Linked DNA regions of Homo sapiens: all the other regions are reported to be linked to region 1. The links are microRNA targets in miRTarBase. Many come from high-throughput screens and were not tested one by one. Region 1 holds a microRNA gene; each other region holds the end of a gene's coding sequence.
Evidence for each region. Region 1 holds the annotated microRNA hsa-miR-3611 (UUGUGAAGAAAGAAAUUCUUA, at 1,869-1,889, opposite strand). A microRNA usually pairs through its seed, bases 2 to 8, with sites in the 3' UTR of a target mRNA and lowers its output. Matches are read on the target gene's strand: a 7mer-m8 pairs with bases 2 to 8, a 7mer-A1 pairs with bases 2 to 7 and ends in A, and an 8mer does both.

Region 1 (4,091 bases):
CAGGAGGCGGGGGTTGCGGTGAGTCGAGATCGTGCCATTGCATTCCAGCCTGGGCAACAAGAGTGAAACTCCGTCTCAAAAAAAAAAAAAGAAAAGAAATAAAAATAATATTAAAAATATATATTTACAGATGTAATGATATGCTGTCTGAAATCTGCTTCACAATTAAACAGCTTGCTCATGAGTTGATAACTGTTAAGGATGAATAAAAGGGACATGGGGATTTATTACAATATTCTTTTTTTGTATGTGTTTACAATTTTCCATAATAAAGGAATTTAAAAATCCTACTCCTCATAAACATTAATATTTTCATAAATTTAGGGGAGAAAGCACATCATCTCTAACTGAAAGCCGTTACTAACCTTCCCTTCTGAGAATCTTAACTTTCCTGTGAGTTTTAGGTTTCCAAAGTTGTAGGAGAGCTCACAAAACACATGGTACTGTCCCTAAATGTGATGTGTTAACATAGCCTGACAAAATGTCCACCCCTAAAAAACTTAAATTACTAATAGCAGAAATAAAAAATATATATGTTTGTTAAGATCAGGTGAATTTTTTTTTTTTTTTTTGAGATGGAGTTTCTGTCTTGTTGCCCAGGCTGGAGTGCAATGGCATGATCTCGGCTCACCACAACCTTCACATCCCAGGTGTGAGCAATTCTCCTGCCTCAGCCTCCCAAGTAGCTGGAATTACAGGCTTGCGCCACCACACCGGTGTAATTTTGTATTTTTTTTTTTAGTAGAGACGGGGTTTCTCCATGTTGGTCAGGCTGGTCTCAAACTCCCAACCTCAGGTGATCCCCCTGCCTCAACCTCCCAAAGTGCTGGGATTACAGGCGTGAGCTACTGCACCCAGCCCGACATTTTTCATATAAAGAGATTTGTTCCTGTGAACTCACTTGCTGGAGCAAAAAAACAATTTAGATAATTTCAGCAGGTAAAAGTTACAGTATCTCAAAAGATGCATTTTGGTGTTTTGTATTTTACTTACCTTCTAAAAGTATAATTATCAATAATGTAAATGGCTAACCACTTACTATTTTGATTCTCTTTATAGTGAACAAAACTCCTGAATGACGATTTATTTCAGTACTGATCAGCAGCACCAATAAAAATTTGGCATCCAAAAATTATCAGTAAGATACAATAGAGTGGTCTAAGTTGACTTCAGATAGTTAAGACACCATAATTAGTTTTTTAAATGCCACTCAATAGGCTTAGAGCAGATTTCCTTCCAAATGCATAAAATGAGAAAATACTGAAGACCCAATAAAGAGCCTTACAGCAGTCCCCTGCCTTATCCAAGGGGATACGTTTCAAGATCCCCAGGAATGCCCGAAACTATGTTTTTTCATATACATACATACCTATGATAAAGTTTATTATATAAATCAAGCACAGTAAGAGATTAACAAAAACTAGCAGTAAGATATAACAATTATAACAATATGCTATAATAAAAGTTACATGACCATGGTCTCTCAGAATATCTCACTGTGCTGTACTCGCCCTTCTTGTGAAGGTGTGAGACAATACAATGCCTATGTAATGAGATGAAGTGAGGTGAGTGACACATGCATCGGAAGGTCGGCATTGGGCTACTTACTACTGACCTTCTGTATTCCTGAATATGTGTTACAGTCCCTGACTTAGAGTAAATGGTTTGGTGTCATTCGTCTCTGGGGATCCCTTGCTGAGTCTTCAAATAGGCTCAATGCTTTCTGGCACAGTATGTTGCCATCAAGTGGAACTTGTCTCTGCTCATGTCTTCCACCCACCAGTGTAATGCCTTTTCCAAATTAACTAAGCACTTATTACACGATATAACTATCACTTTTACAGATTGAGATTTGACAGCAAAACTAGTAAGAATTTCTTTCTTCACAATTTCTTTTCTTTCATAATTGTGAAGAAAAAGAAATTCTTATTAGACCTGCTTACAGTAGGTCTTAGCAATCTCAGTCTATTATTTTTTTCTTTCCTCATTGAGAACTTTCAACTTTTCGTGTAAAGGAAGCACTCTATGGCAGAAGCCTCTCTGGTGTATCCATATTGCTAGGATCACTACTCCTGTACTTTGGGGGCCCTTACTAAGTAAAATCAGGGTGACTTGAACACAAATACTGCAAAACTGCAACAGTCTATCTGATAATCAAGACAGCTACTAAGTGACTAATGGCAGGAGGCATCCACAGCGTAGAGATGCTGGACAAAGGGATGATTCACGTCTGAGCAGGACAGTGCAAGATTTCATCACACTACTGAGGACAGTACAGAATTTAATTATGAGTTATTTCTGAAATTTTCCATTTAATATTTGCAGACCCCATTGACCGTGGGTAACTAAAATGCAGAAAACAAAACTGTGAATAAGGGAGGCAGGGAAGTGGAATACCATATTAACTTGGCATTATTTTCCATTTCCATAGGTGGGCCCAAAGCTGCCAATGGTGCACAATGACCAAATATGTTGCCATCATTTAATATTAAAATAAGCTCCAAGAATGCATCTAAACATTTTCATCTTGCTGTATCAAATGAGCAAGCCACTGGATGTAACTAAGAATGCCCTTTCTTATTTGGAGGTTAAGGGTGCAATGTTTTTTGTTGCACTAAGGTTTGACCCACAGAGCTCTAAGTACTCCATAAACAACATTTCCATCATGACTTTCTGGCTTTAGAATTCCTATTTTTATTTATTTATTTATTTATTTATTTATTTATTTATTTATTTATTTTTGAGACAGGGTCTTGTTCTGTCACCCAGTGCAGTGGTGTGATCCTGGTTCACTGCAGCCTTGACCTCCTGGGCTCAAGTGATCCTCCCGCCTCAGCCTCCTGAGCAGCTGGGACTACAGGCACACACCACTGCACTGAGCTACTTTTTTGTATTTGTAGAGATGGGGTTTCACTATGTTGCCCAGGCTGGTCTTGAACTCCTGAGCTCAAGCTTCCACCAGCCTTGGCCTCCCAAATTACTAGGATTACAGGCGTGTGCCACCGCACCCAGCCTAGAATTTCTAGTAGGTTTTTTACAAAAACAAATGAGTTGGGGAAAAAAGAGTGAACAGACATATGGTGTGTGCCAAAATGTATACTGCAGGAAAACATCTTGAAGTCTCAAAAAGGGTGACACGGTGGGGAGTAGGGAATGTATTCATAATACAATAAGTTACAGAAGCCATTTGCACCCAGGTGTGGTGGCTCACACCTGTAATCCTAGTACTTTGGGAGGCTGAGGTGGGAGGATCACTTGAGCCTGGGAGTTTGAAAACAGCCTTAGCAACATAGACAGACCTGGTCTTTAAAAAAAAATAAAATTATAGTAGCTGGGCCCTCTGGTAACATGCGCCCGCAGGGAGTCCCAGCTACTCAGGAGGCTAAGGTGGGAGCTTGGCTTGAGCAAAGGAGACTTCAAGGTTACATTAAGCTACAATGGCACCACCACACTCCAGCCTGGGCCAAAAGACCAAGATCTTGTCACAAAAAAGCAGCTACCTGCTTCCAAAAATAAACCCACTGCACCAGAATAAAAGACCCCTCTCTGCAATGAACTTTAGACTCCCATAAGACTGCACAGCCTATACTTTGTTTCTTAAGTTTTCACATCGCTCTTATCAGCTTGAAGTTTAACGCCATTTTCACTTGCTTTCTCATTTTTTGTTCAATAATCTAGTCAACGAATTTAAGAAACTGACATTTTTAAAAAAAACTATTCTCATATATGTATCCCCGATCTCAGGTAAATTAGAGAATTTGAATTTCTGAGTCCTTCATGACTAGGCAAGCCCATCGTGTATGAATACTAGACAAAGCTAGAACCAACCAGCCTTTACACAAATTATCAAAACATTGAGAACAAATTTTTTGGCTGTGTGCAGTGGCCCATACCTACAATCCCAGCACTTTGCGAGGCCAAGATGGGCAGACTGCTTGAGCCCAGGAGTTCGCAGCCAACCTGGGCAACATGGTGAACCCCGCCTGTACAAAATACAAACAGATCAGCCAGGTGTGGTGGCATGCACCTGTAGTCCCAGCTACTAGGGAGGCTGGGATGGGAGGATCACTTGAGCCCAAGATGTGACCGCA
Region 2 (4,091 bases), not on the chromosome of region 1:
TTTATTCACTGAGTGTGCTGCTGATTATTACATGTCTGTGGAAGCTTCTGGAGCCAGTGGTGGAGAGGCAGATGTGAATAATCAGTCGAGATGTATATTGATATGACATTATGAACCAACAGAGGAAATCCATTAACGACATCATTTGCTCTTCCTCTGGGGCTCAATTTATAATTATTTATGTTCCAAACAAAACAAAACAAACCCTTTTTGCTCTTTTAGTACTCGGGAGAGCCTGGCTTCCAACACATCAAGCATTGTTGAAAGTAACCGTCGTCAGAACCCCGCTTTGAGCCCGGCCCATGGTGGAGCTGGTCCAGCCTTCAACTTCCGAGCGAGCGCGGAGCCCCCGACAAATGAAGCTGAGAAGCTACAGAAACCTTCCAACTGCTTGCAAGCTTCTGTTACTAGCGTGTGATTGTCCTTCTGCCTCAGATCTTCTGTCTCATTCGATACAGCAAAGTTTACGACACTGGGACTGATGTTTACATCTTTGGAAAGACAAGCATCTCAACCACAGTTTTTGTGTTTACTTAAACTGTGCTGCTAAGTAGGGCTAGGGCAAAAAAACAAAAAATCTTTATTTCAGAGTATTGCTTTTCACATTTATGGCTCTGTAGCAACTGAGTAACAGTAGGGGTGATATGTATACTTTTGCTTCACTAATTGTATCTGAGCACACATAGGAAAGTCTAGACACTGTAAGTGTAATACGCATTTTCAATGTCATGCAGTTGCCAATTCCATTTTAAAATGCCACAGATGCGTGTTGCTCCCAGTCTGTGGTTAAACGGTGCCACAGAACTGATCCTTGACACTTCCAAAAAAAAAAAAACAAAACAAAACAAAAAAAATTTAAAAAAAAAAAACAAAAAACAAAACTAAGCTACCACGAAATGTCAAATGCAAGGGTCCACCTTGAGGGAAATAGATGCCAAACTAACTAGAAGGGACCCCGGCCCTTTGTGTGTGAATTGTTTATGCACCAGTCATTTTTCACTGTGAGTTTTCGTGACACTATTTTGCAGGAGCCCATGGAAGTGTGTGAGAAGGGGTCGCAATGGAGATCACTGGGAGTGAATGTTTTCAGGGTTTTGTTTTGAAGTGTCACAGATGCTTGTCTGATTTTTTTAACCTTCCGTGATCACAAACAGGAATATAGGCCTTTGAATCTGAAGTGGACAAAGGAAAGCAATTTCCAGTCTGGCTGGGGCACAGCATTAGGTGATTGAAAAGGTGATGTGGACTTGTAAAAGGTGTTACTCAAATATTGAAGGAAGAGAATTTCCTCCTTGTGATACTTAGGATGACCCTATCTTACTCTAATAGATACAATAATTAGTTTGTTTAAAAGCAAAATGTTCTTTGTGATACAAATGAAGAGTAGGGCCTGAGGATGTTATTCTTTCTAATGGAAGGACATAAATCTATTTTATGTAGTTTTAAATAGAATGCCTAAATTAGGCTGTGGGAGATAATTTTTAGTGGTTGTAGGAAAGAGCAAATTTAGGGAGTGTTGAACTTCAGGCCTTTTATTCCTGGGAAGATATGTATAGAGAAAACTTTTAAAATAATTTTTGATTAGAAATATACATGTGCCCATGTAATAAACAACAGAATGTGCTCATTCTGCTAGTGCGGTATAATCCGAATTTGTACTCCCCTAAAATTTATCAGAATAACAATTATGCATACATGAACTATGCCAGAGTAATGTTTACAGATACTTTGTAACCAATTTCAGGAGGCGTTTTTAGCTGGATGTGTAGTTAATTAGACCAACTTATTTCCAAATGGTTTGTTAACATTTTGCTTTGGTTTACAATGTCATGTTGAACACAAAGAAGACCCAGCAGCAAAGGGATGACCAATAATTTCATCTTATAGCAAGGAGACATTCCAACGTTCCCATGTTTTATTTTCTGAGAACAGTGGGACAGATCTGTAGTAATGGAATATTATTTGCAAAAGGGTTACATATGACACAAGTAAGTGTTCTGACATAAAGTTTTATTTAGTTCAGTGGCATGTGCTGTTGGGAGCCATACACCATAAAATATATATATCCCAAAATAAATCTAGAATATTTTCACCTCCAATTTCAGTAATTGGCATATGATTTGTGAGACGCATCTGTTTTTGTATGAGGTTTAATCACTAGCAATCTGTTTAAAGAATCCAGTCCTATACACAGTTGGACTCATTCTTGAAACCTTTAAATGCTCCCTCATAGTTTTTCAGTTATTTGGAAGTTGCATTGGGTCAAACTGAACTCCTTGAGTTTGGTGTAAATTCCTTTTTTCTGCTTATTATAGTGAAACTTCAGCATGTTTCTTAGTAAACTCCCATACCATTGAAATGCTTAAGCCAGTTGGCTTTCAGTCTCATGCCTTATTTCCTCCAAGGCATGCCTCAACGCATTGTTTGTCTCATTGCTTAAATATGTCCAGAAGGAATGATCATGTATCTAATAGACTACATAGTTGGTTCCCTTGGGGAGTTATATATCATACAGTTACTAAATATTTGTCTAAATTCATTTTTTCCAAAAACCTGCTCTCAAATTTTTCTTCTACTCTCAGTTCATAAATAATATAACCATTGAAACAACACATCAGCCTCTAGCTGATCCTCTGAAAGTAGCCATTGAAATAATCGAATACTGTGTGAACAGGAAAGGAAAGCGTTACCTTTAAGAGAAGCTTTAAAATAGGAATTTATTGATATTTCACAAGATATAGGTTTACAGAAGACATTATTCAAATAAATATGTACACTATTTGCCTGATGCTATGGGGTACATAATTTTTTAAAAACTCCCTTAGACCAGCAGCCATTAGTGTAGAAATGATGGACTTTAAAGGTGATACCATGTAAGCAGATGTTGCATATAAAAATATTCCTGCCTGAATCTGATCGAGATTCTTGAATGGGGGAGGAGTGGCAGCCGGCAGCACATTGCAAATGTCATTCGAGGTCACGGTGAGGCTCTCGGTCCCGGAACAGTGGGGGCCTCGCCAGGCGTTGCCAGTATCCCTTTCCTCCTGTAAAATCATAGCTTTGTGTTACACGACTGCTTATCCAGTCTTAGGGTTTAGCAGCTGAAAGGTTTACAAAACTGAATCTGGTTGAATCTCTGTGAAAGGGTCAACACATCTGTCGGCATTTTGCACACTTATGTATTATTATGATACAACATATTACTTTATGGTAATTTTTATTTTTACATATAACTACCTCCATAAATTTGATGAAATGGCAGCCGTGTGTTAAAGTGTATCGTTCAGAAGAGCAAAGTTGAACACTTCCTTCAACATTAGGGCATGGCGTGCTGTGTGTGTCAGTGATTGCCTCTGTGGACTCATGACTTTCCATCGCCATGGCTTTCTCTTACGCCGCTGTTTGGCTTTCAGATGTAATCCTGTCTTCTCCTCTCTTCCCCACGAAAGCGCACTCGATTTTGTTAGGAATGAACGGAAGTTTAAAAATTCTTGTGCCCACCCCCGCCCTCCACCCATTCCTGTTAAAAGTTCTCTGGCGAAGAGCCAATGGGTGAACGTAATTGAAAGAGCTATTTACTCTTTTGGAAATCTGATTTGAAGTCTAAGTTTTCAGTAACAGAAGACACACAAGCAATGTGGACTGCCAAGCTTGAAGCACTTCGGGCTCTGCCTTCACTCGCATGCTACCATGTCGAGCCCAAACTCCACTTTAATTAAAAGAGCTGTGCTGTGAATTCCACAACTTCTGTTAAATAATTTGTATTCCATTATATATATTTTGCACATCTCAGGGGACCATAATGAACATATGAAAGGGGGGGGGGTGCCATCAAATAGAGAAAACAAATAGAAGAGGTGAATGGAGACTAGCTGGATAAAAATAACAAATTACTTCTTCTCTGATGTTGTGAAGGTCAGGTTCAGGAAGCATCAATTCACAGTTAATCCGGAGTAACAATGATCTGAACACCAGCTGTTCCCAGGTCCCTCTTTTTCATAGCCCAACCAGCATCTAAAATGTAAATTTAAATTACATTGCAGTCACCATGGGGAGAAGAAACCTGTTCAGTGGAAGCAGAAGCATTGTTC
Region 3 (4,091 bases), not on the chromosome of region 1:
CAGATTTTTACTTATTTTTATTAAATCTGGGTAGGTTTTGTCTCTAGGAATTTGTCCATTTCATCTAGGTTTTTAAATATGTTGACACACAATTGTTCCTATTATTCTCTCATAATCCTTTTTATTTCTGTAGAGCCAGTAGAAATGTCCCCATTTTCATTTCTGATTTTAGTAATGTCAATCTTTCTTAGTATACCTAACTAAAGGTTTGTCGGTTTTATTGATCTAAACACACTTTTCGGTTTCTTGATTTTCTCCTTTGTTTTTGTTCTCTGATTTTAGCTCTGCTCTAATTTTTATTAAATTGTTTTCCCTCTACTTGCTATGGGTTTAGATTTTTTTCTAGTGTCTGAAACTAAGTGGATTCTTTCAGATTTCCTGCATATAAGATCACATCTTGCAGGGCAGGTCTAGTGGCAGCACACTTCCTCAGCTTTTGTTTATCTGGGAATGTCTTAATTTCGCCCTCACTTTTGAAGGACAGTTTTGTCAGTTGTAGAATTCTTGGTAGTTTATTGTTTTTCTTTTAGCAGTTTGAATATACTGGCCCACTACTTTGTGGCCTCCAGTTTCTGAGGAAAACTCTGTGGATAATTTTATTGGGGGCCCCTTGTATGTGATGAATTGCTCCTACTCTGCTGCTTTCAAGGTCTTCTCTGTCTTTTGAAAGCTTAATTATAATGTGTCTCGGTGTGGATCTCTGAGTTTATCTTCCTTGGAGTTCATGGTGCATCTTGGATGTTTATATTCATGTCTTTTATTAAACTTGGTGCGTTTTCAGCCATTATTATCTTCAAATATTCTCTCTGCCCCTTTCTTTCTCTTCTCCTTCATAGACCCCACAACATGTGCACTGGTCAGCCTGATGGTGTCCTGCAGGGCCCACAGGCTCTGTTCACTTCAATCTTTTCTCTTTTTGCTCCTCAGACTCAGTTATTTCCACTGTCCTGTCTTCAAATTTGCTACTTCTGCCTTTGAATCACTCTGATGAATTTTTCATTTCAGTTGCTGTACTTTTCAGCTACAGAATTTCTTGTTGGTTTTTCAGGTTGTCTGCCTCATTATGATCCTTGCATTTGGTTCTATTTTCATTCTCTTGACTTTCTGCACATGTTCTTTGGCTTCCGTGAGCATCTTTAACACAGTTATTTAAAAGTATTTGTCTAGTGTACCTGCCAACAGATCCTTTTCAAGGACAGTTTGTTTTTATTTTTTTCCCTTTAAATGGGCCATACTTTGCCATTTCTTGGTATGCCTTGTCACTGTTTGTTGAAAACTGGACATCTGAATCTATTACTGTGGTACAACTCTGAAAAGAAGTCTCCTGTTCCCCCGGATTTGCCATTTTTGTTATTGCTGTGTTTATTGCTTTTTTGACAGCTCTAGGCTGTACCTGTGCCATGGTTCAGCCTGAGGTGTAAACGTAAGGTCTTCTCGGGTCTTTTCTGAGCCTCTCCCTGGGCAGCCCCATATATACAACACAGTTGTTTTTATACGTCCTAGTCTTCAATGTCTGGCTCCCAAAAGGGGAAAGAGAAAAATGAAGGAACAGAGGTCGGGGTAGAAAGCTGAAATGGACCAAAATTAACTGCAATGTGCTGACCAAGCCTCCCTTGAAAGCTTTAAGCCTTCAGTAGATTCCGTAGTTACAGAACAGCTGCATCAGGCAGATCCTGCCCGCGAGGTAGACATCTACCTGGGCAGCCAGATTCCTGGTGCTCCCTATTCCACCATCTTCCCAGAATCCTCTCAATCTTATTCTTGTTCTCAAAGTCAAACTTTTAAATTTTGTCTCAATTTTCATTGTGAAAAAAGGCCAAGGAACTTGGCTTATCTTTCTCTGCACCACAGGCACCGAAAAGGAAGGTGCCTCTTTGCCCTGTGTCCACCAAGACCTCCACCCTTGGCCACCTTCCACCTTTTCAGGGTGGGCTCCCGGAGGATGTGCCTCAGACAACATGTGGTGGTGGGGTTTGCACCCACAGGGACCACCCGGGCCCACCGCGTCTGGGCCTAACAACCTACTTTCTCACTCAAGTATAAAGTAAAACCAACAAGACAGACAAATTTCTAGATAATAATCCTGAATTAGAGAAACACAGCTTGTTTAAAATGCCCATGCGCGTTTTATTAATAAAAACTAACAGTGCCAAGTTAAACAAGTCAAACAATTAAAGTCTCTTTATATACCATAAAATATTACAGAAAAGTTTATTTGTGTTTCAATAAAAAGACTATCGTTTTAGAACAGGCAGCTAATAGCAACTGTGCAGTTAATGGGTTTTGTGAATAAATTTTAAAAGAGACTACTGCCTGTCCTTAAATTCCTTTTTCTTTTTATAAAAAAAGAACTATTAAAAATGATTGACAAATTTTGAGTTAAAAAATTGTTAAAACATTCTCTATATTTAATTTCAATTTTATAATAGATTACAGGAAGATGCTTATGAAACAAATACATTTGTTTCAGTACATGTCTTTAAATGATAGACTTATAAGTATGTAAACAACTATATAATAAAAGGTTTCCAAACGCTGCCTGTAAGAAATCAGGCAAATTTTACCATAAGCAATAAACCATTCCAAGCCTTCCAGACAGTCTCCATAGCCGCACCAGCATGGCAATAAGCTTTAACCAAACGAAAACAAACAAACAAAAGCACTTCGCAATTTGTTGCTGCAAAACAGGGAGAGAAAAGAGTGTACAAACTTGATGGAATCACAACAGTCAATATAATTTAAGGGACAATAAAGTCAATAAGGTTGATGGTGTTTATTGTTTAAAAAGTTGAATTCTGCTGTTTGCTTGGGGCTGTTTAGAAAGTTGCATTCTGCTGTTTGCTTGGACACCGTACCACTGAACAAACTCCACAGAGTCTTGCTATCCGCCAGCAGGGGTGCCGTCCAAACTCACGGCAAATAAGCGGCATCAGGGGCTCACCATCCACAACAGGAGGTGTTTTATTTTCATGGATGTGGTTGAAATACAATTTCTTCAGCAAACTCAGCAAAAACTTTTCAGGGGCAAAAATGAACTCTGCACTTAAAGAAAAATAGCAAATGAAAACACAAAATCCTAACAAGTAAATAAACGCTCTGCATCAGCACACTGGTATCAAAACACACATCCACAGCACGTCCTAATCCTACGGGAAACAATCCTTGCTTATCAGAGGTGCATATCTAAATTCAATAGCTTACCAATATCTTCTTGGGAGTAGGCCAAAAGGAAACAGAAAACCCACATTAAAAAAAAAGTTTCTTTTCGCTAAACGTTTTCCTGAAGCCGAATCTGAAGTGGGGAGGACGTCAGTCGTCCTCGTCATTCTCGTTGAAGTCATCGTCCTCCTCGTCGTCCTCCCCGACGTAGGACACCGGAGTCTCCACCCTGGAGCCGCTGTACTGAGACCCATTGGAGCTTGTGGCCAGCATCCCATCTGCACCGTTGGTCAGGTCACTGCAAGGCAGGAGGCGGATGGCGCCGTCAGTGCAGGCGGCCCACCCAGCCTCCCCCCGCCTCAGGGCTTGTGGTCAAATGACAGGCTGTGCCCCACAGGTGTGGGTTTTGTCAGTCACACAAACAGAACGGGGAGGCTGAGTGTCTGCACTACAGCACGCCAACGCTCTGGCACTTACTCCATCTCTGTCTGGTTCTCTTCTGGCCCTGTCTCCTGGAACCCATAACGACAGAAACAGGAGGCTGAGCAGAGCCACACGCTGCCTCTCCCTCACTCATCATTCCATCAGGAGCAGTGCCCCAGAGGGAACAAACTGTAAAACCATTAGATCCCTCCCTCCGGGACTTTCACTCATAACCAGCAACAGGAAAAAAGAGAGCCCGGGGCAGGACAGGATGGAGTCCAGAGCGTGGGTCGAATCTGGCAGCGGGGACTGAGAACCCAGAGGGCTGGCAGCACCACAAAAACCTACCACCAACCAGAGCTCACTACGTTCCTAATGTTTAAAGATGTTTTCAATTAACATAAAACCATATGTACATATTTTAATACATTTTAATGGTATTTATTAACACTACAATAAAAATGTGTTAATGTGCCTTTTGATGAAGTAATTCTGTATCTTGGAAACAA
Region 4 (4,091 bases), not on the chromosome of region 1:
GGGCTATTCTCCAAAGGATGTTGCTGTGCTTGTCAGCACCGCAAAAGAAGTGGAGCACTATAAGTATGAGCTCTTGAAAGCAATGAGGAAGAAAAGGGTGGTGCAGCTCAGTGATGCATGTGATATGTTGGGTGATCACATTGTGTTGGACAGTGTTCGGCGATTCTCAGGCCTGGAAAGGAGCATAGTGTTTGGGATCCATCCAAGGACAGCTGACCCAGCTATCTTACCCAATGTTCTGATCTGTCTGGCTTCCAGGGCAAAACAACACCTGTATATTTTTCCGTGGGGTGGCCATTAGGAAGAACTCCAAATCAAAATGCTATGTAAATGTCTATGGGTGACAGTCTGCTGATGGTAGAAACCTTTCTTTTTAGTTCACAAGTCAGAGATTTGGACGGAGCTGACACAAAGAGTTTGGAGCTCCCCCATTTCTGGCTCTCCTTTCAGGGGTTCCTTCCCCAACCCTTTCAGCAGCGGTGGCTGCCCCCCATTCTGACCCCTGACTCTTCCAGCCAGAAAGATGGTGGTTTTCTAAAGGAACTTTAGCTGTCCTGCACAATGCCGATCTGTGTCTTGCATTTTGGGTAAAAGCCATAAAAATAAGAAACTCAGCCTGTGGCCTTTCTTTCTTCCAAGGCTGGGCTTCTTTTTTTAAGTGACTTCATGCAGTTTGTTGCTTTTAAAAATTTGTCCAGAATCGTTTTCTGCAGAAGCATGGTCTGTTAGGAGCTTACTGGCCGTAGCAGAAGCAATTGTTTCCTGAATTCTTGACATTTATCTTTGCTGTATTCATTTAGGGCTTGGGAGAGTCCGAAGATAATTCAGTCACTGTCAGATTAATAATTTTGTCAGGACAAAGAATACCGTTATGATTATTTAATCCTTTAAAATTGTGGTCTCCAGAGCTTGTTCTCAGAATGGCCCAGACCAAGCCTTAATTGTGATAGTGAATATTAATGGTCACTTTAAGGAGAAATTATAGGCCAAGATGAAATGAACATAAACCTGTTTGCCCTGGCTTTCAGTGGAAGATGATATTAGAGACCAAAATCTGGTTCTGAAGGTGTGTATCAGCCCTAAGGTGAACCAGACTTGGGAAAGATTGTCTTTAAAAATCAATGAGTTTATGTTTTAACTTCTCAGCTTAGTTCTATGCATTGCTCTATAACACACCTAGTTAAGTTTTATGTTATTCTTGAACTGTGATTTTTTTTCTATTTACTTTCATGGTTTGGTGGGCCATTGTTATGGACTGAATGTTTGTGTCCCACCCTTCACCCCCAAATTCCCGTGTTGAAGCCCCAACCTGCACTGTGGAGCTGGGGCTGCTAAGGAAGTAATTAAGGTTACATGAAGTCATGGTGGGGCTCTGATCTGCTAAGGTTGGTGTCCTTATAGGGAGAGACCCCAGAGAGCTTGTTCCCTCCCTCCCTGTGCATGCAAACAAGAGGGCATGGGAGCACACAGAGAGATGGCAGCCACCTACAAGCCAAGAGGAGAAGCCTCACAATCAAACTCTCGCTGCTGGCGAGAGTCTTGGACTCTGTCTTGGACTTCCAGCCTCCAGACTGTGAGAAACAAATTTCTGTTGTTTCAGCTTCTCAGTCTCTGGTGTTTTGTTATTGCAGCCTGAGAACACAGCTGTACGATTATTTGTCAAACAGAAAACACTGATACTTAACAATGCTAATGCAATTATTTATTTGCTTTTCAGTCTCTACAAAACGTTCTAAAACACTAATCTAAATATTAACAGTAAAATATTTGCATAACTAATGGAAACTAAGAAATCATATGACCAATATTTCACTTATTGGTAATCTTACTCTACTGATTTCCCCCCAGACTGTGATTTTTGAACTTCCTTGCCTTTCTCCTGTCTTTCTGTGTTTATTCATGGAATTCCAGTTATCTGGGCTTGAAATTGCAGGCTCTCCTAACTTAAGCAAAATCTGACAGATCAGCAAAATGAGATAAATGTTTCTTTTTTCTTTCTGACTGCATTAAATCAGATACAACTCAGCATTAAAAAGCTATCTTTGTAAATGTTGTTACTAATAAATTAGTCTTATAAGATCCCTGGACTTTGGAGTTGTTGCAATGTCTTTGAGAGTAATTCTTTAAAAGTCTAATTTCGACTGGTTGTATCTCTTTATGATTTATTGCCCCACTAACAATATTTGAAACAATATAATATTTTAAAATGTATAAATAATTATGAATTTTTGTTTAGAACAAAGAGGATTACTGATATTTGTTTCCCTATGAATGGCAAAAGGTTTAGCTTACTACTGCATTTCTGTTTTAAATAAAAAGTTGAGAGTTTGTGTCTCATTAAACTGAAAAAAATGGTCTTGTAAAATAAGTGCTTAAATGGGGGAAAAGGAGAAGACTGAGGCCAGTGACTCTGTGAGAGGGCCAAAACGAGCCAGTAAAAGATTAAGCAACATTAACTTTCAATTTTTTTTTTAAGAGACAAGATCTCACTATGTTGCCCAGGTTGGAATGCAGTAGTGCAATCATAGCTCACTATAGCCTCGAACTCCTGGGCTCAAGTGATCCTCCTGCCTCAGCCTCCGAAATTGCTGGGATTATAGGCATGAGCCAGTGCACTAGACTCAGTTGGGTTTGGATGGGTGCCTGCCCATCTCTGCAATCTGCCTCTAGACATCTGGGACCTACTTCACTAAAGATCTGAAAATCTACCCAGCCATTATAAAATGAAACAAAATGTTTTTATATTTTAAATTAACTTTTTATTTTAGAGTAGTTATAGAATTACAGAAAAAGTTACAAAGATAGTACAGAAAGTTCCTGTGTCCCCTTCATTTAGTTTCCTCTTTATTTTATTTTATTTTATTTTATTTTATTTTATTTTATTTTATTTTATTTTATTTTGACAAGGTCTTGCTCTCTCACCCAGGTTGGAGTACAGTTGGGTGATCACAGCTCACTGCAGCCTTTAACTCCTGGACTCCAGTGATCCTCTCACCCCAACTAGCTGAGAAGCTGGAACTGCAGGTGCATGCCACTACACCTGGCTATTTTTTTAAAAAAATTTTGTAGAGGACGGGGTCTTATTATGTTGCCCAGGCTGGTCTCAAACTCCCAGGCTCAAGCATTCCTCCTGCGTGGGCTTCCTACAGTGCTGGGATTACAAGTGTGAGCCATTGCAGTGGCTATTTCCCTGTTTTATTACTGTATTGTTGTGATGCATTCATCACAACTAAGGAACCAACCTTACTTAGTACATGACTATTAACTAAACCCCACATTTTATTTGGATTCTCCAGTTTTTTTTTTTTTTTTTTTTTTTTTTTTGAGACGGAGTCTTGCTCTGTCGCCCAGGCTGGAGTGCAGTGGCATGATCTCGGCTCACTGCAAGCTCTGCCTCCGGGGTTCACGCCATTCTCCTGCCTCAGCCTCCCGAGTAGCTGGGACTACAGGCGCCCGTCACCACACCTGGCTAATTTTTTGTATTTTTTTAGTAGAGACCGGGTTTCACCGTATTAGCCAGGATGGTCTCGATCTCCTGACCTTGTGATCCGCCCTCCTCGGCCTCCCAAAGTGCTGGGATTACAGGCATGAACCACTGCACCCGGCCTGGATTCTCTAGTTTTTCTCTAATGTCTTTGCCTACTCCAGGATCCCATCCAGGACACCATACTACATTTAGTGGTCATGTTTCCTTACACTCCTCTGACCTGTGATGCTTTATTTTTGATGACCTGGACAGTTCTGAGGAGTACTGGTCAGGTATCTACAAATAAAATGTCCTTCAGTTTGGGTTTGTCTGATTTTTTTCTCAGACTGGGGTTATAGGTTTTCAAGAGGAAGACCACAGGAATGAAGAGGTATTCTCATCACATCACATCAAGGGTATATGCTATCAACATGCCTTATCACTCATGATATCAACCTTGACCAGCTGACAGAGGAAGTGTTTGCCAGGTTTCTCTACAGTGAAGTTACTTTTCCTTCCTCCTATGTTGCTAAGTGCAGCTCACACTCAAAGGGTGAGGATTGAAGCTCCACTTTCTTGAGGGGGCCAATGTCTATATATCCTACAAAATAATTTATCTATATAA
Region 5 (4,091 bases), not on the chromosome of region 1:
GCCACACTCTGCCTGGGTCTCAGCCTCGTCCACGTGCCCCCAGCTGCAGAGTGACGGCGTCTGCACCTCTGTCAGTGCGAAGGGAGCACAGACGCCACTGGGTAGAGAAGGAAGCTAAGCACAGAGCTTGCCCTCCCACGCCAGCCGGCGTGCTGACCACACGCAGCTATGGAGAGGTGAGGTTATAACCACGACACGAGCAGATAACACTTTAGTCCTGTTTCCATGGGCTTCTCGCAAGAGCATCAGCGAGGATAATGATCTCTCCACTGAGGAGGAGGTGGGCGAACTAGGATCCTAAATTCATACTTTCAGCAATTCCCTATTTTCAAGACTTTCATTTCTATAAATTGTATTGATTCACCTTTTCTTACTCAAAAAAAGCCCCAAAACCCAAACCAAACCAAGAGGCGGTCTATAAAAAGTCACACTGCCTTTTCCACTAAGTAAGTAAAAAAATCAGTGGATAGACTTAGCTTTGAACAGCTGTGGCTAGCATCTGGCGCAGCCAGCGCTCCAGGCGGGCTGGATGGAGATGGCCAGCCCCTCTGCAGTCAGCGTCCCTGTGTGTGGGCGGCCCTGACCTAACGGGAACCCGATAACGTCAGAGCCAGCTTGCTCAACACCATGGCTAAATTTAGTTTCATGATGAGCAATAAAATTCACATGTTCTTTATTTAGTCCATATGATACACCGTTTTTTAGAGTTTTTGAAAATTAGATAAAAGAGCATATTAAATGGCAAGTGTATGAAGTTTCTCTTCATAAACAATGTCAAAACAAAAAGTTTTGAATTACAAAATGTTAAAAAATATGTCGGTACTTAACATTTCACTAATGCATAAAGTTACAGATATTTTCTAAAGAAAAATAATTGTGCCACTTACCTATATTTGCTGTTTCTATGAACTTTTTTATTCTGTACATAGGACATTTTGTACAAAATATGAAGTCTACATTTTTATTACTTATTACCATAAAACAAAGATACAATGTATGTACAATATTAAAAGGAAGCCATACTAAAGCCACACTAAAAAGACACTTGGAATAGTGACATTTCTGATGTACAGATACATTTTGGAAAGAGTGAAGATGCCAAACGCAGAACTTTATGAAGAAAAACAGTCACCGGTTTATTTTCAATGTAGTACTTTTGAAATCAGTTTGGTACAGAATAAACAGTCTCTATACAATGATATGTAAGCTGACAATTAGCACAGGAGTCCGAGTACTAACTAGGGAAACTTTAGGAGGCCAAAATATTAAGTAATACTCTTGCCAAAGAAAATTAGTTTCTCTGAAAACTTTTATTTTTCTTTTTGGTGAGTGTTTGTCTTCAATAAAGAGCAGAAAGAAAACCTAGACAAAAAGATGTTCTTACACACTGAGCTTTACACAGTCACCCAAACATTGATATTTTGCTTTTTCCCGAGGGCAAAAAGAGAGTCTTCCCAGAAACCTCTCTCACAAACATACTGAACATCCAAAATCAAGGATATTTGAGAATCTATCAGCTAAAGACGGAAGTTCAAACAATGGTATATCAAAATACATAAGACGCTGCTTTATACAATAAAAAGCACCCTTTTTCCCTCAAAAGGAGAAGGCATCTAAACTGTTTTTTTTAATGATAGTTTTCATAATGGTAAAATGGAGAGATACTTGTCAAGTTTCTCAGGAAGTATTCATCTCACAAAGCGGACTTGTCCACTTTTAGCTGGGGCAATCTTCGCATTTCATACCTGCACTTGCTCTTACCACAAGAAGTCCCCTCCCCCCAGGTGATTTTCCTCCAAGACACGAGGACAGAAGCATTGCCAGTGGCTTGAAGTGACAGCAGTGGGCAGGAGGTACCAGAGCTGCACAAGGAGCAGTGTCTGCTTCTCACTATCTTTGAAAGGATACCCGAGACCTCGATGAAAAAACAGATCCTAAAATAAGCCACATTTTGTCTTTTATGCCTCAAGACACTTAACATTAAGTTATATAATCTTATGCCAGAGATGAAAGAAACTAGATCACGTGTTTAGAATAGCAGTACACATCTCAAGTAGCTTTCAAGCAGGATAAATAAGTCAAAATACTGGCCACCCTGAGAGAAATAAAGAATAGACAAAGCACTAAGTTTAAAGATTTTTCTCCTTGTGCTATTCCATCTAAAACAAAAGCTCAGTACATGCAAGGAACTCTGTGGAATATATAGCAGCATGTGAAGACCGATGAAAACTCAGACACTGTATTTTCCTTACAAGGTGTTGATAACGTGAGCTCTTTTCAACAGAAAGAGCTCCACTAAACGTCATCCTCGCTGGTGCCTCCTCCAAGCTCTCAGAACAGCACTGCAGCCTTCAGTGAAGGCAGCGGCAGTGCCGGCCCCGTGCAATGCTGTTGTGTTACTTTATGCTTAAAGGCGCTGCAGTTTGCATTAGGCTAAGAACTGGCTTAACTCAAAATGATTTTGCTCTAACTTTCCATAAAATGTGGAATTCTTAGAGACTATAATTTTATTAATTCAAGAGCCTTGTTGAAGGGCAACAATGTTTAAGTTGACGGAAACGAAATCTGCAAATAAAAATATTAACACATAATTTTAAAACTCCAATTTCTGTCAAGGTAGACAGAGCAAGCTCTTTTAAGATAAATTTCAGAGCAATCTCTTTTAAAATAAATCTCTTCTACAGGCTTACTCCTGGAATCCTGGAGTACCACAGACTTGGAAATATGGCTTTAGGTACACACAAGAGAAGGAGACACGGTGTTCATGTCACTCATCAAAGTGAAGAGACCCCTTAGAAAATACCAGCGGCTGAGGATTGTCATTTGCCCAGTACGTTGCGTGAGAACTCGAAAGCAAAGAGCCATTTCACTGAGATTGAAAAACAAACAAAACGAGAACTGCTGGCGTAACAATCACGTGGAAACCATTTCAAAGGCTGTAAAGTCTTAAAAAATAGGTCCTATTTTTTAAAGCGTTCCTTTGATTTGGAAAACACTGATGTTATCACAGAACCACCTATGTTAAAAGATCCTAAGTTCCATTTGGGAGAACATGAAGATGAAGGGCAGGGTGCTTTCCTATCGCTCTGACTTTGTGAAATAGTCTGACTTGGACTACGCTGGGGTGGCGGCGACACTGCGAGGACACCGTCGTCAACCCGCGGCTCTGCCAGCGGGCTCTGGGAAGTCACCATTGTTTGAACTCCTAATCTCGCGCTGAGGCGGACGCACGTTATTGCCTACGGAACGGGGTCCAAGAAAGCTTTGAGTGTAACTGATTGGTATGGCACAGGAAGTATGTATTTTCTACAGAATCCGGAAAAGAACTGGCGGGCCCGGCCCCGACGCGGCGCCCCGGAGGCTAGCGGCCGTCCTGGGAGGCCAGCTCATCGGCCCTGCAGTGAGCTTCCAAGGCTTTCTTGGTGTGGGGGTCCTGAGGCAGCTCGGACTTGCGGCGTGCAAGAGGACGGTCCTTCTTCGGATCTTTCTGTGCCTGGAATTAGAAATGCAATGGCGTTGGCTACAAACTAAGCTATCTGAAAAGCAAGCTTACTTCTGAGGTGGAAGTCAAAGGATAACCGCGAGGCACGTGTGCCTCACCCACTCGCTGGCGGCACCCTGGCCACAGGGAAACGGCGTAGGTCTTATCATGGAAATTTGCCAAAAATGTCTTGCTACTAAAAATCGTGACTCGTTTGAGGACCTGTGTGTTCAATACTGGCATTCTGGTCTTCTGAAATGTGCAGTGCTTGTACAAAGGACTCAGTACCTCTAATTTGCAGAATTCATGCATTTTAGTAAATTTCCTAAGTAACCTCCTATTTCATAAATGTCATTAAAGCCATTTCATGGGCATGTCCCCTACAGAAGCATTTCAAGAAGCAGAAATTTCTGGCTGGGTGCGGTGGCTCATGCCTGTAATCCCAGCACTTTGGGAGGCCGAGGCGGACGGATCACGAGGTCAAGAGGTCAAGATCAGCCTGACCAACATAGTGAAACCCCGTCTCTACTAAAAATACAAAAATCAGATGGGTGTAGTGGCGCGCGCCTGTAATCCCAGCTACTTGAAAGGCTGGGGCAGGAGAATCGCT
Region 6 (4,091 bases), not on the chromosome of region 1:
TCCCAGAGGAAGACCTTAGGGAAGCTCCGGAGGAGGACCCTAGACTTCCTGACAATTTTAGACCTCCTGGTGAGGATTTTAGGAGCCCGCCTGATGATTTTAGAAGTCACCGCCCTTTTGTGAATTTTGGTCGCCCAGAAGGTGGCAAGTTTGATTTTGGAAAGCATAATATGGGAAGTTTTCCTGAGGGGAGATTTATGCCTGATCCAAAAATAAATTGTGGTTCAGGTAGAGTAACTCCTATTAAGATAATGAATCTTCCATTTAAAGCTAATGTGAATGAAATTTTAGACTTTTTCCATGGTTACAGAATCATACCTGATTCAGTTTCGATACAGTATAATGAGCAAGGCTTACCTACAGGGGAAGCCATTGTTGCTATGATAAACTATAATGAAGCTATGGCTGCTATTAAAGATCTAAATGATAGGCCAGTTGGGCCCCGAAAAGTTAAGTTAACTTTGCTGTAGAGAGAGAGCATTTCTAAATTCAGTTATCTTCCTTGCAGTATTGATGGAGTAAAATACATTTGTTTTAAAAAAGTGTTTTTTTTTTAAATTATCTAATGAAATATTTTATTTTTGACCTGTGAATAGAACAAATGTAAATAGTAGAATGTGAATCTGGTTTTCTTTTGCTTGCAAATTGCCATTCTTTTTTTTTTTCAAATTTAAAATTACACATGCTGTTTTTTTCTTTGATGGGGAGAAAGAACTCATTCCCTGAGTTCATTCATTTTTGTTGATGTCATCGGTAATCTTCAAGACTTATTGAAGTAGAGTTGTATTTGGGGAAGATACATTTTATATTCACTTTTTTTTTTCTTTCTGTAGTCTACCTCTTTTACTCAAACTGTATAAGGAAATAGTGACTGATTGTTCAGGTTTGGCATTTTCATTGCTACCTGCCTGCAGAATTAATGCCCTCTTCCTTGTCTAAGATATTACTGTGTTAAGTGTCCTGTTAATTATAAATAGTTCAAAATGGACAGACTGTCAACTTGAAATTTACTTATGTAAAAAGCTTAGGTGATTCTTAGGGTTTCCATGTTCATAACTTTACAAAGCTTTATAAAAATAAAATTGCAACTTAATAGAGCTAATTAACTTGTATTTGTATAAAAAGAAAAAAGAATTGCAGCTCGATATTGTGAAGTTTTTCAATAACTTCATTAAACCATATTTATGATGGGAGGGACCAGACATTCTATAGTAATAATGTATAGTGCTGTGTATAATTCCATGGTTTCTTCAACATCTTATCAACCAAGTAAAATTAATACAAGATACGCAAAAGATAGTAAAATAAGAATCTAATTATAGGTGCAAGGGGACTCAGGCTTATGCTGGAAGAATCTGACAAGTGGTATAGTTTGTTTTTCTAGGAAGAATTTACTGATGAGTCACATAACTTGCATGTAATATTAGGTTCTCATTTTTTAGCTTCGAAACTGTGTCCATGCAAAGACTCTATAACTGTTAAGACTTGTGTGGTTGAATTTTGACTTCTTTGATATTCAGCATTTAGTGCATACATTTTGCAACTAGGGAATTTGATTTTCTATACCCACAATAATATTTATGGCTAACATTTATTAGGCACTTACTATGTGCTAGGCACTGTAAGCACTTTACATGCATAATCTCGGTATTCCCTGTGAGTACAGGGTTAATTATTTACCTCTATTTCACAAATGAGATAATGAAGTGGGATGAAGTGCGAGGTTAAGCAACTTGCTTGAAGTCATAGGTAGTAAATCGTGGGGCCAATTTTAACCCAGACAGACCACTGACTCCAGTTCATGCTTTTGCTGCCTCACTTTTTTAAGTGGTATTTTTAATTAGGAAGACCATGCTAAAGATACTTTCAAGGATAAATGATTATTTTCTCACTTCAATTGTTGGTTTAAAATTAGCATAAATAGGTAAAACCAGCATGCTCAAACACTGAGCTCAAACATTAACATTACTAATAAAAAAAAAAAGAGTGACTTTAAAAGTTTCTTTCTATCCAGGGTTTCTCTTGGGATACTCATATGGTATATTACTGGCTTATATTTCAAAATTATTTTATTCAACATGATTGACTTTGGCCTTTTATAATTTACATAAAACATAATTTTCCTCAGTTCTGTAATCCAGATTTTCCCCATTGAGTAAATAATACAATTAAATTTACATATGGTAATTTAGACATTTAATAGGATATTGCATAGGTAGAATACTTTGTCAGTACTTAGTTACTACCTATATGTATTTTTGTGTTACTTTTCAGTGATTTAAAGAAATCTAACAGAAATCTGCTTAAATTTGTTTTAAATAGTGAATATCCTGCTTGCTATGGAATGAATAAACAGGTAAATTTGATATGAAAAAGCACCTCAGTATGATTCTTTAAAGTATAAGCTTGTAAGTAGCTAGGATAATGTTAAATTGATTGTTTGGAATATCCAAACCAAGCACAATGAAGAAAGTAGAAATGATATTTTTAATTGAGCAAAGATTGTATAGATGGTTCATTTGGTCACCCATTTTGAATAATATATGGAAAGTTAAAAAATGCTTCTCAGATACAAAGGAATAAAGCTAAGATGAAGCTTAACGTGAGGGATTACTTACTGTGGAATTGCATTTCAAACTGGGCTGAGGTGGGATGGTGGTGGTAGATAAGAGGCCAGCTAGAGTAAACATAAGCTTTGTAGTTTTATTATTTTAAGAGTCAGAGTCTTGTTCTGCTGGCCAGGCTGGAGTGCAGTGGTCTGATAATGGTTCACTGCAGCTTCTAACTCCTGGGCTCAAGCTGTCTTCCTGCCTCAGCCTCCTGAGAGCTGGGACTACAGGTGTGTGCCACCTTGTCTGGCTAAATTTTTTATTATTTGTAGAGACAGAGTCTCACTGTGTTGCCCAGGCTGTTCTCAAATTTCTGGCCTCAAGCAATCCTCACTCCTTGGTCTCCCAGAATGTGTTGGGATTACAGGTGTGAGCCACTGTGCCCAGCCTTGTATTTTGATTTTTAAATTAATTTATATGAATATTTCCTTTTACCCTATAATGTATCAGGGCTTAATATTTTTAAACTTCATTATAAAAAGTTGATTACAGAAAGTGGTATCTTCTAGTTGGGAGCCATCTTTGCACATCTCTCTCCAACTCTGCCTTTAGTGATATGTCAATAACAAATTGGCCATGGCAGGAGTATTTTACACCATGGAAAGTGATAAATGCAGCAAATCAAGGAATTCCCCTCCTGTTGTCCCCTCAGAAAGCCAGCTTCCCAGCACCTCATCAATTTCAAATATAAAAAAAGAATAGTAAATTTTCATGTACACATCACTCAGCTTCAGTAATTGTCGTCTCATAGCCAGTTTTTCCTCTCCTATCCTCAAGGTATACCAGGTACACTGGAGGTGTATTCTCTAGCCTGATACCCAGTGGCATTTGTCTTAAAGCCAAACATTTTTGTCTAGAAATTATCTAAAAAAATGTAGATCATGTCTAGAAAGTCAATCCCACAACCAAGAGATAGGTAAAAATCATGTTAGGAGTGCATTTCTATTAATTTACTGAGATCACTGTTAAGAGCAGTGATTCTTGATCCATATATCACCTGTTAAGTAGTGACCTTGCTGCCTCTGTTTTTGCAGTAAATATTAGCTGTTGTTTATTGAGCTGTATTAGATACTATATGATGTATAATTATGTATGAATTAACTATCATTTAATTCTGATAATCCTAGTAAATGTACTACAGGTTGAGTATTCCTAATCTGGTAATCTGAAATTTCACATGCTCCGAAAATCACAAACTTTTTGAGTGCCAACATGATGCTCAAAGAAAATGCTCATTGCAGCATTTAAGATTTCAGATTTTTGGGTTAGGAATGTTGAACTGGTATAATGCAAATACTCCAAAATCTGAAGAAATCCAAAGTCTTAAATACTTCTGGTCCCAAGCACTTCAGATAAAGGATACTCAATTTGTATTCCTATTTTGGAGATAAGAGATGGAGACTTACAGGCTGGGTTGGTTGGATTGGTTGCCTGTTTTTTGTTGTTGTTGTAGTGGAAGCTAGGAATGGTTTTTCACATTTT

Region 2: the mRNA of STOX2 is a reported target of hsa-miR-3611. Seed matches in the 3' UTR shown: 7mer-A1 at 2,728-2,734.
Region 3: the mRNA of TFDP1 is a reported target of hsa-miR-3611. Seed matches in the 3' UTR shown: 7mer-A1 at 2,284-2,290.
Region 4: miRTarBase lists SLFN11 as a target of hsa-miR-3611. Seed matches in the 3' UTR shown: 7mer-A1 at 378-384.
Region 5: the mRNA of PPP2R5C is a reported target of hsa-miR-3611. Seed matches in the 3' UTR shown: 7mer-A1 at 3,093-3,099 and 7mer-m8 at 2,212-2,218.
Region 6: miRTarBase lists RBM12B as a target of hsa-miR-3611. Seed matches in the 3' UTR shown: 7mer-A1 at 1,687-1,693.

What each region holds. Positions count from the first base shown.
Region 1 is chr10:35,077,741-35,081,831 of GRCh38, forward strand. MIR3611 (microRNA 3611) reads right to left here and starts at 1,940; the gene lies at 1,858-1,940. All of the region lies in intron 1 of CUL2 (cullin 2), which reads right to left.
Region 2 is chr4:184,016,867-184,020,957 of GRCh38, forward strand. It overlaps STOX2 (storkhead box 2), which reads left to right. Exons shown (of 4, transcript NM_020225.3): 4 at 223-4,091. The coding sequence ends at 418. Among named protein-coding and RNA genes, the nearest start is that of STOX2, 110 kb to the left of the region's middle. RefSeq lists an enhancer at 322-821.
Region 3 is chr13:113,639,486-113,643,576 of GRCh38, reverse strand. It overlaps TFDP1 (transcription factor Dp-1), which reads right to left. Exons shown (of 12, transcript NM_007111.5): 12 at 2,104-3,457. The coding sequence ends at 3,310. Among named protein-coding and RNA genes, the nearest start is that of ATP4B, 17 kb to the left of the region's middle.
Region 4 is chr17:35,348,566-35,352,656 of GRCh38, reverse strand. It overlaps SLFN11 (schlafen family member 11), which reads left to right. Exons shown (of 7, transcript NM_001376007.1): 7 at 1-2,352. The coding sequence ends at 301. Among named protein-coding and RNA genes, the nearest start is that of SLFN11, 23 kb to the left of the region's middle.
Region 5 is chr14:101,924,543-101,928,633 of GRCh38, reverse strand. PPP2R5C (protein phosphatase 2 regulatory subunit B'gamma) reads right to left here. Exons shown (of 16, transcript NM_001352913.2): 16 at 657-3,493. The coding sequence ends at 3,362. Among named protein-coding and RNA genes, the nearest start is that of DYNC1H1, 38 kb to the left of the region's middle. RefSeq lists enhancers at 1-44, 45-545.
Region 6 is chr8:93,729,784-93,733,874 of GRCh38, reverse strand. It overlaps RBM12B (RNA binding motif protein 12B), which reads left to right. Exons shown (of 4, transcript NM_001377960.1): 4 at 1-4,091. The coding sequence ends at 470. It overlaps CIBAR1 (CBY1 interacting BAR domain containing 1), which reads right to left. Exons shown (of 9, transcript NM_145269.5): 9 at 2,348-4,091. Among named protein-coding and RNA genes, the nearest start is that of RBM12B-AS1, 8.3 kb to the left of the region's middle.